Linked DNA regions of Homo sapiens: all the other regions are linked to region 1. Evidence: fine-mapped expression QTL. A gene starts in region 1. Each other region holds a variant in brackets. All regions are shown on one strand. Distances are between the middles of the regions.

Region 1 (5,000 bases):
ACTCTGCCTTTTTTTTTTTTTTTTTTTTACTGAGCTGTGAGCTTCCTGTGTCCTCAGGGATGAGGACAGTGCTGGCATAGAGTCTAATACAATCAATGTACCTAGACATGTTCTCATCCCTGCCCCTCCAATTGAAGAGGTCAAGGCTTTGAGATGTGAAAATCATCATAAGAAAAGCTGCATTTGACTTACAGAAAATGAAAAAGAGGAGGAAGGAGCAAGAAAAGCCTTGGATGGTCTTGCCAAGATGGTAGGGGAAGGAAGTTCATTAGGAGTAGGTTACTTTCACAACAGGAAAATCTTTCAACCACTAAGAAGGCCAACCTTTTTTCTCTTTCAGGGAAAACAACACTAATATTATTCAAATCTTTTGGAAATGAGCAAATTCCTTCCTTTCCCCTCTGCCCTGAGGCCTCAACTTTACACAATAGTTTTTCACACCAGGTGACCTGGAGCTGGTAGCCTGGCAGGGGAGTTCGCAAGCCCAGGACTGAGAAGTCCAGGCCCCAGGGCTAGTTAGGGGAACAGAAAAGAAACTCACCTTTGTTCATTAATATTTGCCTAGGGAATGAGGTATCTGCGTTAAACTTACAGAAAGCTGGTTAAAATCTTAACAACGTGGAGACGTGGAGATTCCCAGTATGCCAGTCCTAATGATCAGAAAGTTTTTAGAAAACACCTTGGGTGGCCCTACTGTAGTCTGCCCCATTGGATCCTTCCCAGGAAATGGCACCAGCGTACAAGTTTTGCAGTATTCAGGGCACAAAAGATCATTTATTTTTCCAATTGTGAAGTGAACATTAGATAAAATTATTTCATTTCAGATTTTTTGAAAAGGTAAAAATAATAAGGAAAATACCCTCTCGAAAAGGCTTTTTATTTCGTTTACTGAAAGCTTCCAATAACGTGCCTAGTTTTAAACTAGGTTACTGTTATTTATCACATAATCATCCCCACAGGTTTGATCACCACTAATTTGCAGATGCGGAAACTGACAAGCTCAGAGAGGCTCTCGGTTGCCTTTTGGGAAGTGGCCAAGGCGCGATTTGAATCCAGGTCTCTTACCTCCAGTTTCTGAGACCTTTCTAGACACCAAGGTTATCTCTTCAAATACTGCTGCAAGTAAACAGCTGTGTGAGTATCTAGACTTTTGAAGTTAGCAGACTCTAGGGAATAGGTAGAATAAAATATATGGGTATGTGTTCGCGGGAGCGCTTCTGCCACGTTTTATTCCGAGGCTAGCCTGAGAGATCATGGAAAACATTGCTTCTCCAAAACCACAGCGAAAAACAAGGAAATTAACAAGGCAGAATCGCGATGCGAGACTTGACAAAGTTGTTAATAAGGCGAAGGCCCAAAGCGCTATGCCAGGGCCTGCTACTTCATTTGTTTCAGCGATTAAACCAGCACGACAGGGGGCTGGAGGCAGGTAAAAAGCAGGCTCTTGCGTGGCCCGGACAGTTGATATTCCTGGCACTCGGTGTTCGAGATGTTTCCTTACAATTGCGTGTCTGTGCGGCTCGGTCTCCATATTCCACTCATTTTTGTCTCAACATTTTGTGGTATTTTATCACAAAATACGCCCGGCAAAGCAAAGATCCCGTTCAGTCTCTTTAAACACGGCTATCTTTTCTCAGGAGGCAGCCGCCGGGGCTTCACTCCTGGGCCACCAGCGACGTCCTCCAAGCGGGTCGAGCGGAGGCGCGTTCGCGACCCAGGGGCAGCGTGCCGAGCCCGGGCGTGGGGGGGCGTGGCCTTTCCACTCGGCGACCCCCGGCCACCGCCCACCCCGCGCGTGGGGGCGTGCGCGACTGCGGGGCGCGGAGAGGGGTGACCTCGGACTACCCTAGGCGCCCGCAGCACGCTCTGTACACAGACGCGAGGCGCTGTCCTGAGGTGACACCGGCTGCACGGCACAAGCAGCAGGCGCCGCCGATCAACTAGTTCGCACCGAGGATTCCTCTTGGTGCGTGGCCCAGTTTTCCTTAGGACGGGCTCCAACCCCTCCCTGACACCGCCCCCCTCACCGCCACGCTCCGAGGCCTTCCCCGGGGAAGCCTCGCGTCCCTCCCCCGCGGCTCCGGGCCGCACGCGCGCGATTCCTCGATTCCACAGGCGGTTCGCGCCGCGGGTGGGGGCGGGGCGCGCGGGGAGGGGGCTGGCGGCCGCCAGGGGAGGGGGGCCGGGGCCCGGGGGGCGGAGGAGGGCCGGCGTGGGGAGTTCCTCGCTCGCGGACCACACGCTCCGCGGGCCAATCCCGAGCCAGCCTCTAGCAGTGTCGCACGCGGGACACGTCCAAGCGTTTGTTGGCACGGCCAGTGAGGGGGAGGGGGCGAGGAGGAGGGAGGGGAGTTGAGTGACAGGCTTTGCGGGGCAGGCTGGGAATTGTAGTTCCCAGCTTCCGTGGCCATAGCCATTTTGTAGTCGGGGGACTACAACTTCCAGAAGATCAAGGGGACCATTCTAAGGTGCCCCGGGAATAGGCGGCTCTCCCCGGGGCCGGGCGTCCTGGGGCACTCCTACCCAGCAGCCCGGCTGCAGGTAGACGCGAAGGCAGTGGCGGGGGCTGGCGTGGGGCGGCCGTGGGGTGAGCGGCAGGCAGGGGAAAGGGGGTGAGGTGGAGCGACGGAGCGTGCCATGCATTGAGCTAGGGAGCCTCTCTCAATTCCACGCCTGGGCTCGGCGTGGGAGCGACGCCCGAGGGCTTGCCTGGGAGGGGTTCGTCGAGGTCGCTCGGGTGTCTGGTTGGCCAGGCTGCGGGGGTGCCCTGGACTGGGCCAGGGGCGGTCGGCACCAGGCTAAGCGGGCGCCTGGCGGCTGAGCGGTGGGAGTTTTCGGCTGGCGCCCGGCGGGGAATTATCCGAGGAGCCCTAACTTGTATAAAAGCAGAGTCCATTTAAAGTTGGGCTGGATAGCCTCTCTCTCATTGGTTAGGGGGCTTGGAAAAAAGAGACTCGGCGAGCCCTCGCTGTGGTGCTGCCGCCGCCGCCGCCGCCGCCGCTGGAGTTGACTCTTCTGCTCGCACTGCTGCTGCAGCACAAACGTGACTTCCAACATTTTTTATTTATCTTTCCCTTTTCTTTTCCAAGATGTAACTACGGATCAGACACTAAGGACCTTCACGTTTCGCTGATGTAGTTTTTGGAGGAAAAAGGGGGGGGAGTGAAGGGCGTCGGTTTTTTTTTGTGTGTGTGTGTATGTGTTTCGGGGGAAATTTTCCATTATGAGTGTTTTACTAAAGTGAATTTTTTTTTGTTTGCTTCGTTCGTCTTTGGCTCTTTTTTTTTCCTTCCCAATTTCGGATTTATTTCAAGGCGAATCTGGCTTTGGGGGAAGAGGAAGAAAAGTCGGATTACAAGATCAACCACCACCAACAACAATAAAAACCACCAGGATATTTTTTTGCAAATTTCTGACGGCTTTAAATTCATGAAGCAATTGTCCCCTTTTGCAATCAGCATTTGGATCTCAGAATGAGCAAGGAAAGACCCAAGAGGAATATCATTCAGAAGAAATACGTAAGTGCTCCTAACAACACATCCTTTGACTTGCAGTTTTAAGCAATGGCTGTGAATGTCAAGTTTATAGATAATTCTGCCTCTGAAGGGTTTTAAACACAGCGTCCGATAAGGCTGTTTCTTTTTTTTCTGAAAGAGGGCTTTTCAAGCAAAGTGGTGTCTGCCTAGTTTGGTTGAAAAAACAGACTGGTGTAGAGATACCTCAAGTGAATAAATTGACCTCGAATGACACAACCATAATCTACTTTTAGATGAAAGGCAAGGGATTTTGGTGGAGCTTGAGGTGGGGGGTGGCTGCGGTAATGTAACTAAACTGCATTCTCAAGCGGATTTGGCCCCGTATTGCACTTTGCATGCAAATGAGCCTGTGTTATTATTATTAATGTTATTTGGAAAAATCGTGTAACGCATGTGTGTTGGAAGCCCTTTAAGTTGCGATCGAGGGTCCGATTATGGCGATCTTCTCTTTGCACTGGCACATCAAATTTAATGTCTGTGGTCGTTTTGGCTTATCTGGTTTGCAACATAAACCAGTTGGGAATCATGTTACAGCGAATGCATTTGTTGGGATTGACTTTAATAATGAGGCTGGTTTTGTTTAAAAAATTCATGGTTTCCAGTTGTAGGGGAAAAGGACACACACTATGGCTAATGTTTTTAAGTGTGTACGTGAATGCATATGTAAGTAACTACAAATAATTTCTCCCTGTTAACTGGGCTTCTGAAATTGGGTGATTATTCCTAGATTTAAATGGCTTGGAATAGTTAAATTTGTTTTGTGCATAGTACAGCTACGTTTTGATTGGCATGGGGAGTGTTTTTGTTTTGTGTGTGGTGGCTTTTTTTTTTTTTTAAGTTTGAGGGGAGGGAGGAAAGGGGGACCGAGGGATTAACCAAATATGCACTCGAGTGATCTGTGATTAGCTGCATGCTTTAAATTAAATAACTCTTTTTTTTTTTCAAAAAAGGCCAAATGAACATACCTTAGGAATAATGCAACGTAAGAGGAAAGTTTATTTAAGTTGGGTAGACAAATTGGTGTTAATATTTTCCCTTTTTGATCATTGTGGTGTGTGTAATGAGAGATGACCTTCGGGGCACTGGTTTTGTAAAAAAATATATTTAATGGAAAAGCTGAATGCCTCTTCAAGAGAGCTGATCCTTATCTAGACACGTCAACTTCAACTATGAAAGAAATGCAAGGTTAAATAATCAAGCCCAACTTAGAAAGCTGTTCCATAAAGAATTTAAGAATTAAAATACATCCGCATTGCAGAGGGCTGGGTAGAATGCAAAGGACTAGTTTAAACTCGGGCTGTAGAAACTGCACTGAGGCAACCTTGTCTTGGAGCGTGGACGCCTTCCCGGGGCACGTCCGTTTCGGATGCAGCCACAAAGCAAATGGGGTAGAACTTGGACGAGAACCGCACCCCGCCTCCCATTCCGGACCTCGTTGAGGTGGAGAGCAGCGTGGGGTGGGTT
Region 2 (5,000 bases), 190 kb after region 1:
TGTCCAGCTGAATCACACCATGAACCCTTGGCCTCAGCTCCTTATGCACTGTCCTTTACGCTTACATTGTGGAAGTCCTCCCTTAACCTAGTTAGTTACTAGGGTTGTCTATCTGCAGTGCTAGTTTGTGTAACATTCTCTGCTTTTAAAGTTGTATGACATAAAAAAATAGAAGAAACGTATTTTAAAAAGAGGAACTTTTTCTCTACCCTCTTAAGTTCAGTTTTGGGGAGCCTGCTAATTAAATGGATGAAAGACAGATTAGCAACAGGGAAAAAAAAAACAGATTTAGTTGAGTTCACAAAGAAATGTGACTCTAAGAGGAGGTTAGAATTTACCATCCTAGAATCGCTTGAACCCGGGAGGCGGAGGTTGCAGTGAGCTGAGATCACGCCACTGGACTCCAGCCTGGCAACAGAGTGAGACTCTGTCTCAAAAAAAAAAAGAAAGAATTTACCATCCTAATGGGATGTGGGGGGCAAAAGGGCGATTCTGGGAGGACAAATAAATTCTTAGAAGAGGGTGGAGAAAGGCCACTTAAGAAGAACAAGTGAATTTTTGGAAAGGTAAGTGGGCCCTTAGCAGAATAGATAGAAGATAGAATATTTTTGTCAGTGTCTGTTAGTATTGTTTTCCAAACCCACACAGGTTTAATGTCTTGGGGCCTGTTCTGGGTATGAAGTTACTATGGCTGCTTTTTGATGGTATTTTGGAAATGGGTTGTGGGGTGGTGGGATGGGGAGGAAACTTGAAGTATCCAGCTGGAAATGTTCTCATTTACAAATTGCTGGAGGAGAAGCCTCAGCAACCCTTCCCAGGACTGATATATGGCTGGGAGTGTGGAGTTTGGCAGTGGATTGACACAGTTAAAGATGGATGCCTCTTTGATCAAAGGGAGACCATTAGGGCATGTTGAGGCTGGCGGAATCGGAAAGTTGCATTATAAAGAGGGTAGTTATGCATCCCCCCTCCCAGTGCCTGTCACCCACATCTTTATGAACATGATTCTGCATTTGCCCAGTTGGCTGGCATAACATTCTGCTGAAGTCAGCAGTGAGGGAGATGTACGTACGTAGCTTTTTTCATCTGTGAATTGCAGAGCGTAGAAGGATGTAGTTCATTTCCATGATTCCTCTGCACGTCATTGTTTCTGACCAATGTGGACAAAATGTGAGTATTTTTCTGACAATTCCAACTTCTTTGTTATTGTGGTTCCTCCTGGCAGCCCCCGCTTTAAAGATCCTTTAGGCAAATGTTATCCTTTCTCTTCAATGGTGGCTTGCCTTCCTGTGGTGGGGGCAGCATAGCTTGAAAAGAGCTAGGAAGCAGTTTCCCTCCACAGTATCCTTCTATCTGCTCCATTGAAATCCCTTACTGTGGCCATGCTCGGTGGCTCACACCTGTAATCCCAGCACTTTGGGAGGCCAAAGCAGGCGGATTGCCTGAGGTCAGGAGTAAGAGACCACCAGCCTGGGTAACATGGTGAAACCCTGCCTCTAGTAAAAATAGAAAAATTAGCCAGGCATGGTGTTGGGTACCTGTAATTCCAGCTACTCAGGAGGCTGAGGCAAGAGAATCGCTTCAACCCGGAAGGGGGAGGTTTTAGTGAGCTGAGATCACGCCACTGCACTCCAGCCTGGGTGACAGAGCAAGACTCTGTCTCAAAAAAAAAAAAAAAAAGGTGTGGGGGGTGCTTTTTCTGGTTCAGGCAGTGGAACAGGGGAGAATGAGGCAAACCCAGCTACAGTGCCTCTCATAGGAAGCATCACAACCATTAATTACTCCTGGTGCAAGAGGACTCAGTGAAGCTAGGTTTGAGGTTGGGGTAAAAGATAAGATTTTGGACATTGCTCATTTAAGAAGTTTTTAGCTGAAAAATCTTATCATTGGCTGCTTTCATTGTTGGAGGTTTATAAGCCTGTTGCATGGATCTCTATCCTCCTCCTGTACTTGCACCCCTGCTGTTATGTTTTATTAGGATGTCGTGCAATTTATTCTCCCGTTTCTTTCACTCCTGGTTATACTTTTGATCACCCTTCCCTCTGTTTTGTAATGCCATCCAGAAAAAATGAACAGATAGTGAGGCTTTGTGAGGAACCTACGATGGATATGTGGCTGCAGCCTTCTTTGGAGGGTTTAAGCTGCACTGAAGGAGGCTGACCTTGTGGCTTTATCATTTCCTGTCTACAGACAAGGAAAATGGGCTTAAGCAGGAGGGATTAATGAAGGACTTAATTGAACAGGAAGTCTTTGTCTTTTAGCCCTTCAGAATTACACACAGCTTGGGTGTTTTTATCTTGAGTCCTGTTTAAGAGATTGGACTTCTTTTCTCAGGATGTTTCCGGAAACTGAGTGGGGATCAGAAATTGTCATGGAGTTAAAATGCTAAAGAAGAGGGGTAACAAGCCAGCTTCATTGGATGAGGAGAAGGGCTTGTTTTGATTTCCTCATTCTTCCCAGTCTCACCCCTGGGAGTTTCTGCTACTGGCTTGGCTCAAAGCCTTAAAAACCCATAGAGTACTTTTATAATGTCACAGCAAATGCAAGCATGTTGTCTCTGGAAAGGAACTCTGAGGCACATGTGTTAAACCAGCAATGCTGTACCTTTAGCAGAGTGTTGTTGGTTCCGTGCCTGAAACACAGATAACATACTTGACATCAAGACCCCTTGTGAATCAGAGAGAATGACTTTACCTTCTTGGAAACGTTTTGACTTGAGATGTAGTCAGAAGATATTCT[C/T]GTCCGACCCTTTGAGGGTTCATTTAAGCCGTACGCAATTAGATGAACATGTATGTCCTGCAGATACTCACTGCTCATCTGTTGTCCACTGCCGCTGTCTACATATGTGACCTCTTTCAATTTAGTGCACATTCTTGACATCAGGTGGATTCACAGCTTGCAACAGCGGACTGGTCCTTGGCTGATAAAAACTGGGAGGACTTTCATGTTGTACTGAGGCGAGGTGTCTGAGGTCATGGAATGGTTATTAAGATTGTAATCGAGGTAGAATATTGTGAGTTGGAAGGTTTGGGCTGACCCCTTTGCATCCTGCCTCCCAGCCCCTCAGGTCCCTCCCTTTGGTTTGATTCAGTGATGCCATTTGGTTTCTGTTTTGTGGCCTGAAATATGGTACCATGTGCAGTGTTGAATGTTGGGAAAAATTTAAGGCTGCTTAAGGGATATTCTGGGTATTGTTAGAAAGGAAGTTGATTTGCTCACCTTGCCCTGTTGCCCACTTTCCATTGGCACAGTTTCTTTGGGTTGTATTTAAATTTTTATTCCACTAATGTGTCTTCTAGAACTGTTACTACAGCCAGTGACATAGATGCTCAGACACTGTGTCTGTAATAGCTCCGGTTTTTAAGTGGGAGAATGTGCCGTTGTTTCAGCATCAGAGAGCTCAAACAGTCAGAAGGTGGAGGAGAATTAGTTTTCCTAAAGTTCATTAGCTATTAGCAGATTTTTTAAATTATGATTGTGTTTCCTTATCTTAGGCATTTTTAACAAATGTTGTCAGAGACAATGTGTCAGTTATAGTGAATCCTTTTCTTACAGAGCAGACTTCACTCCGCATTTTTGTTGGTGATAGTTTAAGTAATGCCCCATACTTTGAAAATCACAAATGATTAAGGTCCAGGCAACTAAATAAATTTCTGTCAGAGCCCCAAAATGTGGGTTTTCTGATACTTATCAAAAAAGGCTAGATGTTGTGGGTTTTCTGATACTCAGAAAATGTGATAATCAGAAAATGTAGGTTTTCTGATACTCACCAAAAAAGGCTAGATGCTGTGTGTTTTATCTCTAGCCATGTTTCTTGGGATCTAAAATAGCTGGATTGTATATTCCTAGATGTTTTCCATACAAGAACTTTGGGGTGTAATGAGTTGGAGGGGTGAGATGGTATTACTAATAGCGTTGATAGACCTACTTTCTGTAAATAGTGGCTGGGTTCTTAACTGGCACCAGATTTTAGTGCAGGTCCTAAAAATTGGCTAATACTAGTGCTTGTCATAATTTAGCATTCCTTTTTTTCCCCTTAGGGGTGATCCCACAGCTGGAGTGTAAAGACTCGCTATTGCCATCTATTGGTGCATGCTGGCTACTTCATAAGATTTGCAGTGGGTGGGGAAATTGCCTGGGATCCCTTTTCTATTTGTTACCCTTTAAATGAAGAAAATTTCTGTTAGTGAACTTACTGCATGAGAGGGAGGACATGTAAGATGCCAGAGCCCACTCTGGTCCTTCTGGGACTTAGAGGACACTCTGAGTGCCGCCTTTGTGCTTTGGTCTGTCGTGTGCTGAATGGATGGTTAGGACCTCACCTACCGCACAACTCCATCTGGTATGATATTTCTGGTGGGAAGTTTCTGCAGCTATCTTAGAAGCATTCCACTGGATTTTCTTTATTTATTTATTTTTATTTTATTTTATTTTATTTTTGAGATGGAGTTTTGCTCTTGTTGCCCAGCCTGGAGTGCAATGGCACGGTCTCGGCTCACTGCAACCTCCACCTCCTGGGTTCAAGTGATTCTCCTGCCTCAGCCTCCTGAGTATCTGGGATTACAGGCGCCTGCTACCACGCCCAGCTAATTTTTATATTTTTAGTAGAGACCATGTTAGTCAGGCTGGTCTCAAACTCCTGACCTCAGGTGATCCCCCACGCCTGGCCTGGATTTTTATTTTTTAATAAGCTGTATAGCATTGTAGAATACAATTTCTTCTTATATTTCTCTTGCATTTTGAAAAAAAAAAAAGGAAGTAAAACAGGATTCTCGCCTCACAGGGTCATTCCCTTTGCCTTTCCAAACATGCCCATTGCCAGGAGAGTTCTGGCAATTTGCAGTTGGGTGTTGAGTAATCTAAAATTGAGAGACTGCTAGGGTTTTTGTTGAAATGATATTTTAAAAACTAAATAGGGAATCCCATCGAGAGATAGTAGAAAGGCAAATTAACATTTTAACTCGCTCTTCTAGGCTTTTAAAACTGAATGTACTTAGATA
Region 3 (5,000 bases), 26 kb before region 1:
AAAAAATTACTTAAGAAACGTACAAATCTTAAGTACAAATTTCAGTTACTCAATAAATTGAAACTTCTTACTATTATCACCACTGTATGGGGCAAAAGTAGCAGACTAGTCAGTCAGTCATCAGTGGAATGGATCCTACTTGACTTGTAGTACTAACCAGCTATATGACCCTGGACACTCATACAACCTTTGCTTTCTTTTTTTTTTTTGAGACGAAGTCTCCCTCTGTCACCCAGGCTGGAGTGTAGTGGCGAGATCTCAGCTCACTGCAAGCTCTGCCTCCCAGGTTCACACCATTCTCCTACCTCAGCCTCCCGAGTAGCTGGGACTACAGGCACCCGCCACCACACCCGGCTAATTTTTGTATTTTTAGTAGAGACAGGGTTTCACTGTGTTAGCCAGGATGGTCTGGATCTCCTGACCTTGTGATCCTCCCGCCTCCGCCTCCCAAAGTGCTGGGATTACAGGTGTGAGCCACCATGCCTGGCTAACCTTTGCTTTCAAACCTGTAAAACAGAAATACAGTGCCACCACCTCTTCTACTCATCTCTCAGAACTGTGATGAGACGCGAATGAATAAGAGATATGGAATCCCCTTTCAGAAAGTAAAAACACTTACAAAATCAGGGGATTTTTTTCTTCCCCACATTGACAAATATTTGGGTTCTTTGGGAGTTTTTAACATATGGGTTAATTCAGAGTTACAGATATAGATTTTCATAAATTGGGTTTCTGAATTTCCAAAGTTAAAACTATAACCTCAGACAATGTATCACTTCAAGGTTTCATTTTATCCCAAGTCATATCATCATGAACACCAATTATTGTCCCTTTGGAGACAGCTGAGATAGGAGAAATTTAAGAATCAGAGCATATGAAACAAAGCTTTTAGAAGATAACATCTGCTGGGCAAGATCAGGGATGATATAAGGGAAGAATAAAAATTATGAGTCTTTCTCTAACAGTCCAAGCATGAAAAAATAAAGATAAAAATAAGTAAAAATTTTAAAAAATGATCAAGTCCAAAACGAATATTCCATAGGTTTTTGGGTTTTTTTTGAGACAGTCTCACTCTGTCGCTCAGGCTGGAGTGCAATGGCAGGATCTCCGGCTCACGGCAACCTCCACCTCCCGGGTTCAAGCAATTCTCCCAGCCTCAGCCTCCCAAGTAGCAGGGATTATAGGCACCTGCCAGCACGCCTGGCTAATTTTTGTATTTTTAGTAGAGACAGGGTTTCCCTATGTTGGCCAGGCCGGTCTCGAACGCCTGACCTCAAATGATCCACCCACCTTGGGCCTCCCAAAGTGCTGGGATTACCGGCATGAGCCACTGTGCCAGGCCCCTCATTAAGTCTTGAGTAGGAATAAACCTATCCCAGCTCTGAGGCATAGACCTTAATTGGCATATATAAATCAGTTTAAAGTTACCTACTCCTCTGCCGCAGTAATTGGGTGATGTATGGATAATAATCTAGACCCAAACCAGTTAACTCGTAGTATTTGCTTAGAGTAGTTCAGGGATGAGCCAATCACTGTCAAAGTACAAACTGGCCTGGTGCGGTGGCTCAAGCCTGTAATCCCAGCACTTTGCGGGGCCGAGGGGGCGGATCACCTGAGGTCGGGAATTCGAAACCAGCCTGACCAACATGGAGAAACCTGACTCTACTAAAAATACAAAATTAGCCGGGTGCGGTGGTGCATGCCTGTAATCCCGCTACTCAGGAGGCTAAAGCAGGAAAATTGCTTGAACCGGGGAAGCGGAGGTTGCGGTGAGCCGAGATCGCGCCGTTGTACTCCAGCCTGGGCAACAACAGTGAAACTCCGCCTTGAAAAAAAAAGAAAGAAAGAAAGTACAAACTGTTGGATGATTATGGAGAGCAGTGCTTTCTCCCCTTTCAGAGTAAGCCCTGGTTGCTGTAGGCGACAATCTTGCAGAGGAAGGAAGCCTGCTGAAGACAGGTGAACCACAGGTGGTGGGGGCTGGATCACAGGTGTGAGCCACCACACCTGGCCTATTCCATAGTTCTAACCTTCATTCAGTTGGCTAGTCATTCATTTATCAAATATTAAATAGCACATGCTGGCCAGGCGCAGTGGCTCTCACGCCTGTAATCCCAGCACTTTGGGATGCTGAGGTGGGTGGATCACTTGAGGTCAGGAGTCTGAAACTGGCCTAACCAACATGGTGAAACCCAATCTCTACTAAAAATACAAAATTAGCTGGGCGTGGTGGCACATTCCTGTAATCCCAGTTACTCAGGAGACTGAAGCTGGAGAATCACTTGAACCCAGGAGGCAGAGTTTGCAGTGAGCCGAGATCTCGCCATTGCACTCCACCCTGGGCGACAAGAGCAAAACTCCGTCTCAAAAAACAAAAACAAAAACAAGACTAGGGCATGTTAGGCTGGGTGCGGTGGCTCATGCCTGTAATCTCAGCACTTTCAGAGGCCGAGGTGGGTGATCATCTGAGGTCAGGAGTTCGAGACCAGCCTGACCAACATGGAGATACCCTGTCTCTATTAAAAATACAGGCCGGGCGCGGTGGCTCACGCCTGTAATTCCAGCACTTTGGGAGGCCAAGGTGGGCGGATCATGAGGTCAGGAGATCGAGTACATCCTGGCTAACATGGTGAAACCCCGTCTCTACTAAAAATACAAAAAATTAGCCGGGCGAGGTGGCAGGCACCTGTAGTCCCAGCTGCTCCAGAGGCTGAGGCAGGAGAATGGCGTAACCCAGGAGGTGGAGCTTGC[G/A]GTGAGCTGAGATGGCGCAACTGCACTCCAGCCTGGGTGACAGAGCAAGACTCCTTCTCAAAACAAAAACAAAAACAAAAAATTAGCTGGGCATGGTAGCTCATGCCTGTAGTTTTGGCTACTCGAGAAGCTGAGACAGGAGAATTGCTTGAACCTGGGAGGCGGAAGTTGCAGTGAGCTGAGATTGCGCCACTGTACTCCAGCCTGGGAAGTTGAGACTCTGTCTCAAAAAAAAAAATTAAATTAAAAAAAAAAAAAAAAAAAACTAGGGCATGTTTCAGCTATCTATAGCTGTGTAACAAACCATGTCAAAATGATGCCAAAATCTAGTGGTTTAAACACTTGACAGAGATGGGTCTTCCTTCCTCCAGATGGTGCTCGCTGGAGTGGCTTGACAGGCCTTGGAGAATCTGAAGTCACTGGCAGAATGTTCACTATGACTTCATTCACTTCTCTGATGCCTTAGGTGGCTGCAATGTGTGAAGGCTGGCTGGTCCCCTGCATCTTCACCTGATCTCTTACCATCCAGTAATCTGGCTCAGAGCCTCTTTTTTTTTTTTTTTTTGAGACAGGGTCTTGCTCTGTTGCCCAGGCTAGAGTGCAATGGCATGATCTTGGCTCACTGTAGCCTCAAACTCCTAGGCTCAAGCAATCCTTCTGCTTTAGCCTTCCAAGTAGCATACAGGTATGCACCACTACACCTGGCTATCAGACGACTTTACATGGCAGCTGATGGACAAGAGAAGGAAAAGGAAGTTGGGCTTCTTTTTTTTTTTTTTTTTTTTTTTGAGATAGAGTCTCGCTCTGTTGCCCAGGCTGGAGTGCAGTGGTGCCATCTCGGCTCACTGCAACCTCTGCCTTCCAGGTTCAAGCGATTCTCCTGCCTCAGCCTCCTGAGTAGCTGGGATTACAGGTGCCCACCACCACGCACAGCTAATTTTTTTGTATTTTTAGTAGAGACGGGGGGTTTTACCATGTTGGCCAGGCTGGTTTTGAACTCCTGACCTCAAGTGATCCACCCACCTGGGCCTCCCAAAGTGCTGGGATTACAAGCATGAGCCACCATGCCTGGCGAAGCTGGGCTCTTAACACCTGGGTTTAGAAGTCCCAGAATATTACCCTCACCACACTCTGTTGGTAAAAGCAATTTACAGACCCAGACTCAAGAGGAGGGGATCCTGCACCAGAGCTCCCCACTCTAAAAAAAAAAGGCGGGGGAGAGGAAATGGATTCCATCCGTTCCTGTTCACAGAAAGAATAATTTGTTGGTGGCTGTCCTCACAGATGATCCACCGAAGTGCTTAGCTAGGATTGCATGGTGGGAAGACCAATCTTTTCCCTGGGGAGGATGGATTGTAGCCAGGCAAGAGGCAGAAAGACCAGTTTGGAGGGTGTTGCAGTGGGACAAGTAATAGTTGAAAGTCTAGGCTAATGAAGGTCTAGGTTAAAGAAACAGAAGTGGATGGGTTTGAAAGGTGCTTTATAAAAAGAAAAATCGCCGGGCGTGGTGGCTCACGCCTGTAATCCCAGCACTTTGGGAGGCCGAGGCAGGCGGATCACAAGGTCAGAAGGTTGAGACCATCCTGGCTAACACGGTGAAACCCCATCTCTAATAAAAATACAAAAAATTAGCCGGGCGTGGTGGTAGGTGCCTGTAGTCCCAGCTACTCAGGAGGCTGAGGCAGGAGAATGGCGTGCACCCGGGAGGTGGAGCTCGCAGTGAGCCAAGATCCCACCACTGCACTCCAGCCTGGGCGACAAAGCGAGACTCTGTCTCAAAAAAAAATAAAAAAATAAAAAATAAATAAATAAAATAAAATAAATAAGAAGAATCAGGTGACTGATTGGCTGTTGGTGCTAGGGAGAATATGGGGAGGGAAGAGCCAAGAGGGACACCAGTGTTCCTACTTTCATTATTATTATTATTTTATATAAAGATGGGGCTTTGCTACATTGCCCAGGCTGGTCTTGAATTCCTGGACTTAAGCGATCCTCCTGTCTTGGCCTCCCAAAGTGCTAGGATTACAAATGTGAGCCACCAAATTCAACCCAGGGTTCCTACTTGATTTCAGAGCAGCTGCCCTTTGTTCTGTCAAATCCCTACATAACAAAGTCATTTTTATTCCTAGATGAATGTTATTTTTCAGCAATGCTTCAACTCTGCTAAGCAAGTTCTTTAGGTGAGGTTAGCTTGACCCCAAGAAATCCAAGTTAAATTTATTGTGCTTAAAAAGGGTCAGTCAGGGAGA
Region 4 (5,000 bases), 140 kb after region 1:
AAATATAAATGGATGATTGGAGGCTTTCCTGGGAAAAATCATTTGTTTTTACCATAATATTTAAAAATAACAGCAGAATGGATTTTACAGAATTTTTATCTAATTTGAAAATAAAATACATGTGACATCTCCTGAATCATTGGCATCCTGGTGTGATGAACAAGCAGCCCTTTGCCCTTCATCTGTGTGAAGGGGGTCGGGTATCTGATGCCTGGGAACAGTGTGTGGACACTGCAGCTTGTATCTGAGCAGTGAGCTCAGCTGCCCTGGTTCTGTAGGTCTGTGAGTAGTAATAACCTAAGCAGACATAAGATAGTGGAGACACGTCGTTTTTCATGTCATAAAATCCATGTTTGCTATCAGTCTTGTTTTTGTGGTTTTACAGTGACAAGGAATGAATTTTTTTTTTTTTGGCCCTACTATTGGTAGGATATGTGAGTTTTGAACAGCCTCATGAGTTGTCTGTGTAGCAACTGATGCCATCGTTACAGCTTGTTGGTTATTGCTGGGCTTAAGCGTGAAGTGGTAAGATTTGCTGATTGTGAGCCTTCTGTCTACTTTTTGTTGTAGATAATGCCACTTTTCATGGATGTAATAAATTGACAAAAGCTTTGGAAAGGACTGGCAGAGGCTGAGACCTTGGCCACTCTTTGAGGGCCCTTGGCCTGCTGAGGCTAAAATTAGGGACATTTAAATAATAACATGCTACACAAATAATGAGTACACAGAATTACACAGTCAGAGAGGGAAGCTATTAACTGTATTTGAATTTCATTTGCTTCCTATAAATGTCATCTTAGATCAAGTCCTTTGGCCAGCAAAACACTCTTGATGAGATTTAAGGGACCCTGGATTCATTTCCTTAAACTTACCCCGGGCAGTAGTTGTGATGGCTAGCCTACCTTGAGTTCTCACTATTTGCCAGTTATTGTTCTAGTACTTTAGCTGTATTTAACTCATTTAATCTTCAGAACAAGCAATTTTATAGGTGAGGAAACTATATACTAAGAGTGGATTAGCAATTTGCCTACCCAGCTATTAAGTGGAAGCATGAGGATATAAGACCAGGCCTTTTGGATCAGACCTCCCATGCTTTCTGGATTAGAGCTCCCAAGCTTGTAGCCACCACTTAGATAAGGAGAGGTAATTTTGGAGCCTTTCATAAAGATAGCATTCCAAAAATAAGAATTTGTAGGAAGACTTTACTTTTTTTAAGTAGGTATTTATTTGGAAGGAGGTAAGTGGATTTTTTTTTTTTTTGGTCGGGGGCCGGGGGTGAGGGGATGGAGTCTTGCTTGCTCTGTTGCCCAGGCTGGAGTGTAATGGCGCAATCTCTGCCCACTGCAACCTCAGCCTCCTGGGTTCAAGTGATTCTCCCACCTCAGTCTCCCGAGTAGCTGGGATTACAGGCATGTGCCACCATGCCTGGCTAACTTTTATATTTTAGTAGAGAGAGGGTTTCACCATGTTGGCCAGGCTGGTCTCAAACTCCTGACCTGAGGTGATCTGCCCACGTCGGCTTCCCCAAGTGCTGAGATTACAAGCGTGAGCCACCGTGCCTGGCCGTCAGTAAGTGAATTTTTTATTGGGAAAAAGAACCTTGGAAGGCATGGTAAGTATTTATTGACTGTGTTTCTGGGCTTTATTTATGATTTGTAATTGAATTGATAGAGGGTATCAAAAATGTAGACTGTGAATTGGTTTCCTCCTCTCTTCAGTCAGACACACAGATGCATCCGTTAGTTTCCATTTCCTCACTTAGAGTTTTGTGTTTTTAATGCTGTTGTCGTTCTGGCTGGCTGGAACTCACTGGACGGATGGTGCATGGATGTTTTGGCAACAGCTGCCAATTTGTAGCCAAGGACCAGTATTGGAAGCGCAGATGTGGGACATTGTGTAGCCAACACCCCCCAAGCCCCCTTTAAGAAATATAATTTTGAACTCCTTTCAGAATCTTTCAGTCATTTCCAAAGATTCTTGATGTGTGTGGAATGAAATGTGGGCCCGACTGTGAATTCATTGTTAACAAAATATGTTCACACAAGTCATAAAAACGTATTTGTGAATCAAAATAAAAAAATGTCAGGTCACATGGTCTGATTTACGTAAGTTTATTTGTGGGCCATATTTGAAATGAATGTCTGGGGTATAAAGTGACCTTCCTCTACGAAGGGGAACACCTGTCCCTTCTGTTTTTGCTGGAAACTTTCAGGTCTAGCTGTACTAGAGATGGTGCCTACTTTATCATTATCATTTATTATTATTTATTATTATTATTTTCTTCTGAAGACAGTGGCTTATGGGCCGGGCGCGGTGGCTCACACCTGTAATCCCAGCACTTTGGGGGGCCGAGGCGGGTGGATCACGAGGTCAGGAGATTGAGACCATCCTGGCTAACATGGTGAAACCCTGTCTCTACTAAAAATACAAAAAAAAAAAATTAGCCGGGCGTGGTGGCGGGTGCCTGTAGGCTGAGGCAGGAGAATGGCGTGAACCTGGGATGCGGAGCTTGCAGTGAGCCAGATCGTGCCACTGCAATCCAGCTGGGGCGACAGAGGGAGACTCCTGTCTCAAAAAAAAAAAAAAAAAAAAAAGTGGCTTATGCTTCAGCTTTACCGAAGTGTTGATGTCTGTGTGCTAGTCTCCTCCTCTGCAAGCTGTAGGGAGACCAGTTGCAGCTTGAGTTTTCTCTAACACTCCTGTGTCCTGGCCTCCAGACTTTTTTCTTTCCCTCTCCTGTTTCCCCTGATGTGAGGACACACTCTGCATGAAAGAAAGCTGGGTGAAATGAAGGGCTTCAATGTTGTTGAAAACAACTTATTTTTTGTTTACAAAGGAAGCTACATTTGTTGTGGAAAGGCGAGAAGGCTTGGGCTCTTTGTCTTTCAGCTGCTTTTTTGATGTAGTGATGTAGGT[G/A]GGGCATTTCTCAGATTTTCATTTTGTAAGTGTTGGAGTTTTTATTATGTGGGAGGCATTGTGGGTATAAAAACTGAGATCAAGTTGCTTACTTTGGTCAAGTCCTAATACCTTATTTCATCCCTTCTAAGATGTCATTGAGTGATGCACCATTATGTTATGTATCAGTAAGCAAGAACAAAACAGTGCTTCCAATGATGAATGTGGGACAGCTTAATTATGAGATGCATGTTTTAACATGAGAAAAATAGATGCAACTTAAAATCTGTGAAGCAGGATAAAATACTGTAGGATAAATGCTTTAACAACCAAATGGGGCTGGGTACTGTGGCTCACGCCTGTAATCCCAGCACTTTGGGAGGCCGAGGCGGGCGGATCATGAGCCTGGCCAACATAGTGAAACCCCGTCTCCACTAAAAATACAAAAATTAGCCAGTCATGGTGGCGCACGCCTGTACTCCCAGCTACTCAGGAGGTTGAAGCAGGAGAATTGCTGGAACCCAGGAGGCAGAGGTTGTGGTGAGCCAAGATCGCACCACTGCACTCCAGCCTAGGCAACAGAGTGAGACTTTCTCAAAAAACAGAACCAAAAACCCCAAACGAGTGTATGGGTGAGTGCAGGAGGCTAGCAGGGAGGCAGATGATGTCAGAGACCCAGTCCTAAGATACAGGAAACGTTGTATATCCATGAGCCTTGCAAAGGGGTCTTGAAAGATGCGAGAGATTTCTGAGCAAGACCTTGGGGTGGCAGGGGTCAGCAAATATTTGACTGGTCTGTTGGTGTCATAATCTAGTGGGACAAATGGCTGCAATGGCCGGTTTCCGTGGCCAAGTCACTTGTACTGGTCTGATGCCAAAGGAGTGGTGTGCAAAATTAAGGACTGCTAGAGCAGGAAGAGTCTTTTTAGAGGTATATAGGTCAAACTCATCATTTTACAGATGAGGAATTTTGAGCCTTGATGAGAAACTTAACTGGAAGGAATGGATCATGCTGAAGCCTGATTGGAACCAGAAATCCAATTTAAGTGACAGTGAGGCGCCACGCTTCCTAGTAGGCATGGCTGCTTGCACGCATTTCCTGGAGCGTTAAGAATGGAGGTGCCTGAGGAGGTTAATGTGCTCCTCTTTCGGGTCACTTTGTGCTTGACACCCACTGCCCCTCTCTTTCTCTCTGCCCGCCTCCTTTGTCAGTTCTGTGAGCTGGGCTCTGTTTCCCTGATTACATCATCATTCCCATCCAATCCTGGACGACTTTAGGAGGGACACAGCACTCAGGTAGTGTCACCTGGGTAGTGGAGTCTGTATGTGTAGGGCTATAGGGCGGAGGAGGTGGTCTGTGTAGGGAGACAGAAGGGAGGGAGAGCAGTCTGAGCTCTAGTTGGGCCTGTTTGCTACAGCCTATTTGCTTTTGCCAGTTTTTATAGGAGTTCAGTTTCAAAGAAGTGGGGAAGGCAAATGGATGGAAATTTGTTGTAGTCTAGAATTTTTTTTTTTTTCTTTGAAACAGGGTCTTGCATGTTGCCCAGGCTGGCCTCAAACCCCTGGGCTTAAGCAGTCTTCCCACCTCACCTTCTGAGACACTGGGACTACTGGCATGTATCATCATGCCCAGGTTGGGATTTTTTTTTTTTTTTAAGCTGAAGCTCTTTCTATAAGGGTCTCTCTAGTTTCTTTGCGGATGAAATTAATAACTCCCCCTCCATGACATCACACTGGAAATTATCCCTCCTTCATCATTTACCTCTCTTTACTGGTTCATTCCCACCATTGTAGAAACATGTTCTTATTTTTCCCATAATAAAGTAAAGCCTCCCTTGTTCTTGCATCTCCTGCCTGCTGTATCTTTCTCTTAGTTTATAGCAAAATCCCCCATAAGAAAATGTCTAAAAGGTTTGTCTCCATGCCCTTCTATTTATATTCATATTAATATCCCCCAGCCTTCCTTTGCCATTCACCTTTAAACCCCTCACGTTGGGCCACTTATCAAGGTCAGTAATGATTGCCCAAGCCACATTTCCATTATTCTGGGGTGTAATTGCCCATTTAGCAGCATTTACCGTGATTGAACATCTCCTGAACACCAC
Region 5 (5,000 bases), 260 kb after region 1:
GGGGAAGGGGCTCGGCCACGTAGCAGCCTCAAGGCCCTGAGTGGGAGTGATCGCAGCGGATGAGGATTCCATGAAGAATTCTTGCAAGCGCTGTGTGATTTTCAGGTGCTCTTGCGTTATAATCTACTTAGAGTGAAATATGAAAGTGTGGATTTCCTCCCTTCTGTGACCTGTGTTCTGAGTCACTCGGACGGTGGAGGACTTGTTTTGGTTGGGGGACTCGTTTTGGTGCCTACCTCTGTAAGTTGAGACAGTACCCACCTGCCCTCGGAGGAAGAACTCCCGATTGTCAGCCAGAGCCACCGTGAGTCCCACCTGTGACTCTGGGAGTCTGTGAGACCTGGAGTTTGTTGTGGAGTCTCAGTTCTTAGGTCCCTCCTGTCGAGGCTGGGGACAGTTCCCTCATGGATGTTACCCCAACTCCCCTGTTCTCCACAACCACATCAGTCCACTGTCCTGCCATTTAGTGTGAGTGGAATTCAGGCTGCTGTGTCCCCATCCCTGGTCTTGCTGGTGTGCTGGGAACTCGCTCTCTGTGTGTGCTGTGTCTGCCGAGGTGGTTCAGACGCTTCACCTAGTGGGTCCTGTCATGCTTGGTATGTGCAGCGACCCTGCCTGGACTGGATCCGTGCACACTTTACCTTTTATTACTTAAAAACAATATATCCCCACACTCTAAAGATTTAAAACGTTGTTAATTTGTACTTTGTTTAGTATTTTGTTGATGGTTATTTTGGAAAATCTCCCCTACCCCCCTTCCTTTATTTGGCCCGAGGGAGGTTGCTTTCTCCATTCCCATCTAGAAAAGCCACTGGGCGCGCGTTAAAACCTGCCCAGGTTTGATGTGCATTTGCGCTGCTCTGTGGCCTGATCAGGAGGGGCACTGAGCACCAGCTTATGCACTGAGAAGCAGCCCGCTGTCTGGATGGGCGAGGGACGAGGCATAGATGTGCTGCCCTGTGTCCTCACGCAGGTGTTGCTCTTTGCTCTGGAAATCCAGCAGGATGGAAAATAGACTTCCTTTGTGTGAGTGAGTGGGTGGATGGGTGAAGTTGAGTGAGTGAGTGGGTGGGCATTGGGAATTATAGAAGGGGAATTGGGAGTTGGTAACAAGCATGTGTCAAAGCTATTCTAGGTGACGCTGGGCCGTGGGTGCAGCCAGGACCCCTACCCACTCCTCACCAGGGAGCTAGTCTTCTCATGACACCCGCCTCCATGTGACAACACATGTACCAGTACATGGTACACTGGGATGTTCCTCCCTGTATGTCTGTCTGGCCAGCTCGCATCCTTTTCCAGCCAAGCCCCAGCTTAAATGCTGCCTCCTCAGACGCTCCCCACCTAAAATGGTAGTCCCTCGTTCCACCTGCTCTTCGTAGCAAGTGGTCATGACCCATCATTTTGTAACGCCCTTCTCTCTGTGGACCGGGAGTCTGCTGTTCACCACTCTCACCCCAGAGCCTGTCAGAGTCCTGGCTCATAGTAGGAGTTCAAGAAGTACAGGTTGAATGAGGAACATCTTGTTCGTGTCTCTTTCACTAACTGTCCCGTTTTTTTCCCCTTCGCTGTCCCAGGGGGCTGTGAGCTCGACCTGGCCTGCTTTTTCCGGCTGATTAATGAGATGGGCGGCATGCAGCAAGTGACTGACCTCAAAAAATGGAACAAACTAGCAGACATGCTGCGCATCCCCAGAACTGCCCAGGACCGGCTGGCCAAGCTGCAGGAGGCCTACTGCCAGTACCTACTCTCCTACGACTCCCTGTCCCCAGAGGAGCACCGGCGGCTGGAGAAGGAGGTGCTGATGGAGAAGGAGATCCTGGAGAAGCGCAAGGGGCCGCTGGAAGGCCACACAGAGAACGACCACCACAAGTTCCACCCTCTGCCCCGCTTCGAGCCCAAGAATGGGCTCATCCACGGCGTGGCCCCCAGGAACGGCTTCCGCAGCAAGCTCAAGGAGGTGGGCCAGGCCCAGTTGAAGACTGGCCGGCGGCGACTCTTCGCTCAGGAAAAAGAAGTGGTCAAGGAAGAGGAGGAGGACAAAGGCGTCCTCAATGACTTCCACAAGTGCATCTATAAGGTAGGGGCCTCCGCAGAGCAGCCACTCCCAGCTGCAGGAGTGCGGGAGGAATGAGAGAGGAAGTGGAGCGTGCTATGCACTGGACGGTGTGTTCTCTGATTCCCTGGGGTGA[T/TGAAG]GAGGGGGCGGGCCACTGTGCTGGGTGATAGCGCTGTATTAGTCCTCTCGTGTTGCTGAAATACTACAGACTGGGGAATTCATAATAAACAGAAATGTACTGGCTCCTGGTTGTGGAGCCTGGGAAGTCCAATATCGAGGAACCTAGTGAGGGCCTTGTGGGTGCGTTGATGGGGCAGCAGGAGACCCAGTGAGGGAGGGGAAGTCCACTCCACGAAGATACCACGAGTCCATTCCGCCTGCCTAGGGCCTCGGGTTTCCTTTTCATTAACTGGCTTGCGTGTGCGTGTTGCATGCACGTGCACACATCTCCATATGCCAGGGATAAGTAACTGGGCTGCATGCTTCGTTTCCCCTGCTTCTCCAGTTCCGTTTCATCCTGGTGCTCGACAGCTGCCCAGATCCAGCTGAACTTCTCACTGGCTGGACCGTCAGTGGACTCTGTGCGCTTGTTTTCTCTGTTTTCTATCCGCTCACCTCACTGCCAGCCCAGCGTTGCCAGGTCCTCTCTGTGGAGAGCTATCCCTGATAAAGCCATCAAAATGAATCTCACCATTCACACGCTGTGGAGGGAAGAGCTGGGGAGAAACCAGCAAACTGAAACATGCAGCGTTTCCCTGTCTCCGCCAGGTCTCCCGGCAGCACACTCATCCTGAGGAGACTCGCCCCTCCAAGAAGCAGGGGAGGCAGAGTCCGTGGCTCTCCTCTTGGCAGCTCTCCCAGCTGTCCTGGCTCTGAAGCAAGGCTTGGGGTTTCCTCCCTTCTCCAGCCTGCCAGTGGGTAGCGGGGCACCCGGGGCCCAGCTGGCCGAGCTCAGCTAAGTTGAAGTCTCTGCTGAGTTTCCCGGCACAGACTTGTCCTCTGTGGTCCCAGTTCTGGATTCACTGGAAGGGAAGCGTTCTCTGCTCCAGCCCTCGTGAGCCTGGTGGGAGTGTGTGGCTAGTGGGTTTCGGCAGCATTGGGAATTGGCTGTTGGTTATCACTAAACACCACCATACCCTCAGGTGCCCACGGCTGCCTGACTGCAGGCTCTGGCCTGGCCTTGTAGTTGAGGCAATGCGGGCTTCTGATACCATCACACATCTTAGAAATACGGAGGAAGGGTTGACTTGACTCCTGGCGTTGCTGCTTCACTTTAAGTCCAGGCCCTGCAGACCCGCCTCAGGCTGCATCTCATGTCCTTGCACACTTCTCTGGAAAGAGGTACCCAGTTTTTCTGGCCTGAGACCCTGAGAGGGTTTGGCTCCCTTTTATCTGAGTCTGCTCTCCCATTGCCCAAGGCTGCCTGGTGGGGATGCGGTGTGGGGGTTGCTGGATGCAGCCTGCCAAGTGTGACCCAGAGACTGTAAGCTCTGAGGAACTTTATTTGGTGTTTCCTGAATGTTTTACTGAGAAGCCTTTGTCAAGTAAAGCCACTCAGTGAATCCTGTGACTGAATAGCCAACTGGTGAAATGAGAAACTGTCAACGTTTTTACTTTTTACTGAAGGAGGCCAATTCTGTGAGCGTATGTTTGATTCAAATAAGAGGTTTGGATTTGTTTAAATCCACCCCGTCAAGGGTATTTCTAGATTTCATCACGGAAATATAGTGGAGCTCTGCGTGGTGGCCATGGCGAAGCCCCCAGCAGCCGTGTGCCCACGGGTAGGGACCGTGAGCACGCAACTCTCTGTGGCACCGGTGTCCTGGCTGCTGACTTTGGTCTGCTGGTGTCATCCTCACCTCCACTCATTGCACTCTGCCTTGGTGCAGAATTCAGTCCCTCCTTTTTTATATTTACAAGAAACAGACTATCAGGAGCGGCTTGGAATTTGCATGGAAGTACGTTCCTGTAGTTAGAACCCCATCTAGTTCCTTTGCTGCAGGAGAGAAAGGCACAAGCCAATGTCTCCATGCCGACTACGACTGTGGACCCAATGGCAGAAAGCATCTGCTGCTCCCTGTTGTGGCCCTATCACTTCTAGGGGGACGCTGCGGTGTCCAGTGCTCCGCAGGGAAGCCTTCCCTGACCACCCTCCCCCACTCTACATGACACCTGGCACCTCCTCCCATCCCATATTTGTGTGTTTGAGGCCTGTGTCTTCCCCAGACTGAATGGAAGCTCCTCGAGGTTTTGTGTGTTTCATGCACTGCTCTGTCTCCAGCCCCTAGGATTTGACCTAGTACACCATAGGTGCTCAGGAGATATTTCTGGACTCAAGCAACAAATGTGCCCGGTCAAGTAAGAAAGAAATAGCAAGGGTCTTAGATGGATTCCCTCTGAAAAACGCACCACATTTCGTGTGGTAGGTAAAAGAAGGTGCTGACTCCGGATTCCCAAACTGACTCAGCTGTTTTATCAAAGCAAGCAAATCATTCTGGAAGTTATTGGGAACAGGGCAACAGAGGGGCATCGAAGAAGAGGCGCAGAGGGGACAGCAGGTGGTTCTGTGGAGAGAAGGCGACCAGGTCGCAACCTCAGTGAAGGCTGCTGCCCTGGCAGGTGTTAATATGGCAAGGACTCTCAGGGTGTAGATGTCGCACCAGTTTCTGTCTCTCCAGCTTCTCTCCTGTGGGATCCCTGGTCACGAGTTCCATCAGGTCATAGCTGCTGATAGCTTCTCCGCTGGCCCGCAGCAGCCTTTGTCAGCTGAGGGATTCTGCCTCCAGCACAAGCTGCTTTTTCAGCAGAGCCTTGGAGGGGCCTTCCGCGCTTCTGCTGTGCGTCCGCTCAGGGCCTCTGGGCGGCAGCCTCTGTTCCTGGCAGAACAATTTGGCCCTCATGGGGTTGATCCTTGGTGGAGTCTTCCCACTCCTCTTGGCACTGCGGGTTC

Evidence for each region. PIP is the estimated chance that this variant, and not a neighbour inherited with it, causes the effect.
Region 2: its variant is fine-mapped to the expression of JARID2 in fibroblasts (GTEx, PIP 0.92).
Region 3: its variant is fine-mapped to the expression of JARID2 in whole blood (TOPMed, PIP above 0.99).
Region 4: its variant is fine-mapped to the expression of JARID2 in whole blood (TOPMed, PIP above 0.99).
Region 5: its variant is fine-mapped to the expression of JARID2 in subcutaneous fat (GTEx, PIP 0.99).

The regions. Positions count from the first base shown.
Region 1 is chr6:15,243,067-15,248,066 of GRCh38, forward strand. It overlaps JARID2 (jumonji and AT-rich interaction domain containing 2), which reads left to right and starts at 3,003. Exons shown (of 18, transcript NM_004973.4): 1 at 3,003-3,518. The coding sequence starts at 3,474. JARID2-DT (JARID2 divergent transcript) reads right to left here and starts at 2,308. Exons shown (of 1, transcript NR_187237.1): 1 at 857-2,308. It overlaps JARID2-AS1 (JARID2 antisense RNA 1), which reads right to left. Exons shown (of 2, transcript NR_120502.1): 2 at 4,749-5,000. RefSeq lists enhancers at 1,118-1,631, 2,821-2,870, 2,981-3,080 and silencers at 1,631-1,940, 1,951-2,210.
Region 2 is chr6:15,437,369-15,442,368 of GRCh38, forward strand. All of the region lies in intron 3 of JARID2 (jumonji and AT-rich interaction domain containing 2), which reads left to right. Among named protein-coding and RNA genes, the nearest start is that of DTNBP1-AS1, 110 kb to the right of the region's middle. RefSeq lists an enhancer at 1,522-1,591. The variant C/T (reference allele first, on the strand shown) is at 2,740.
Region 3 is chr6:15,216,909-15,221,908 of GRCh38, forward strand. No RefSeq gene overlaps it. Among named protein-coding and RNA genes, the nearest start is that of JARID2-DT, 26 kb to the right of the region's middle. The variant G/A (reference allele first, on the strand shown) is at 2,752.
Region 4 is chr6:15,378,770-15,383,769 of GRCh38, forward strand. All of the region lies in intron 2 of JARID2 (jumonji and AT-rich interaction domain containing 2), which reads left to right. Among named protein-coding and RNA genes, the nearest start is that of JARID2-AS1, 130 kb to the left of the region's middle. The variant G/A (reference allele first, on the strand shown) is at 2,917.
Region 5 is chr6:15,499,333-15,504,332 of GRCh38, forward strand. It overlaps JARID2 (jumonji and AT-rich interaction domain containing 2), which reads left to right. Exons shown (of 18, transcript NM_004973.4): 8 at 1,575-2,077. Among named protein-coding and RNA genes, the nearest start is that of DTNBP1-AS1, 44 kb to the right of the region's middle. The variant T/TGAAG (reference allele first, on the strand shown) is at 2,190.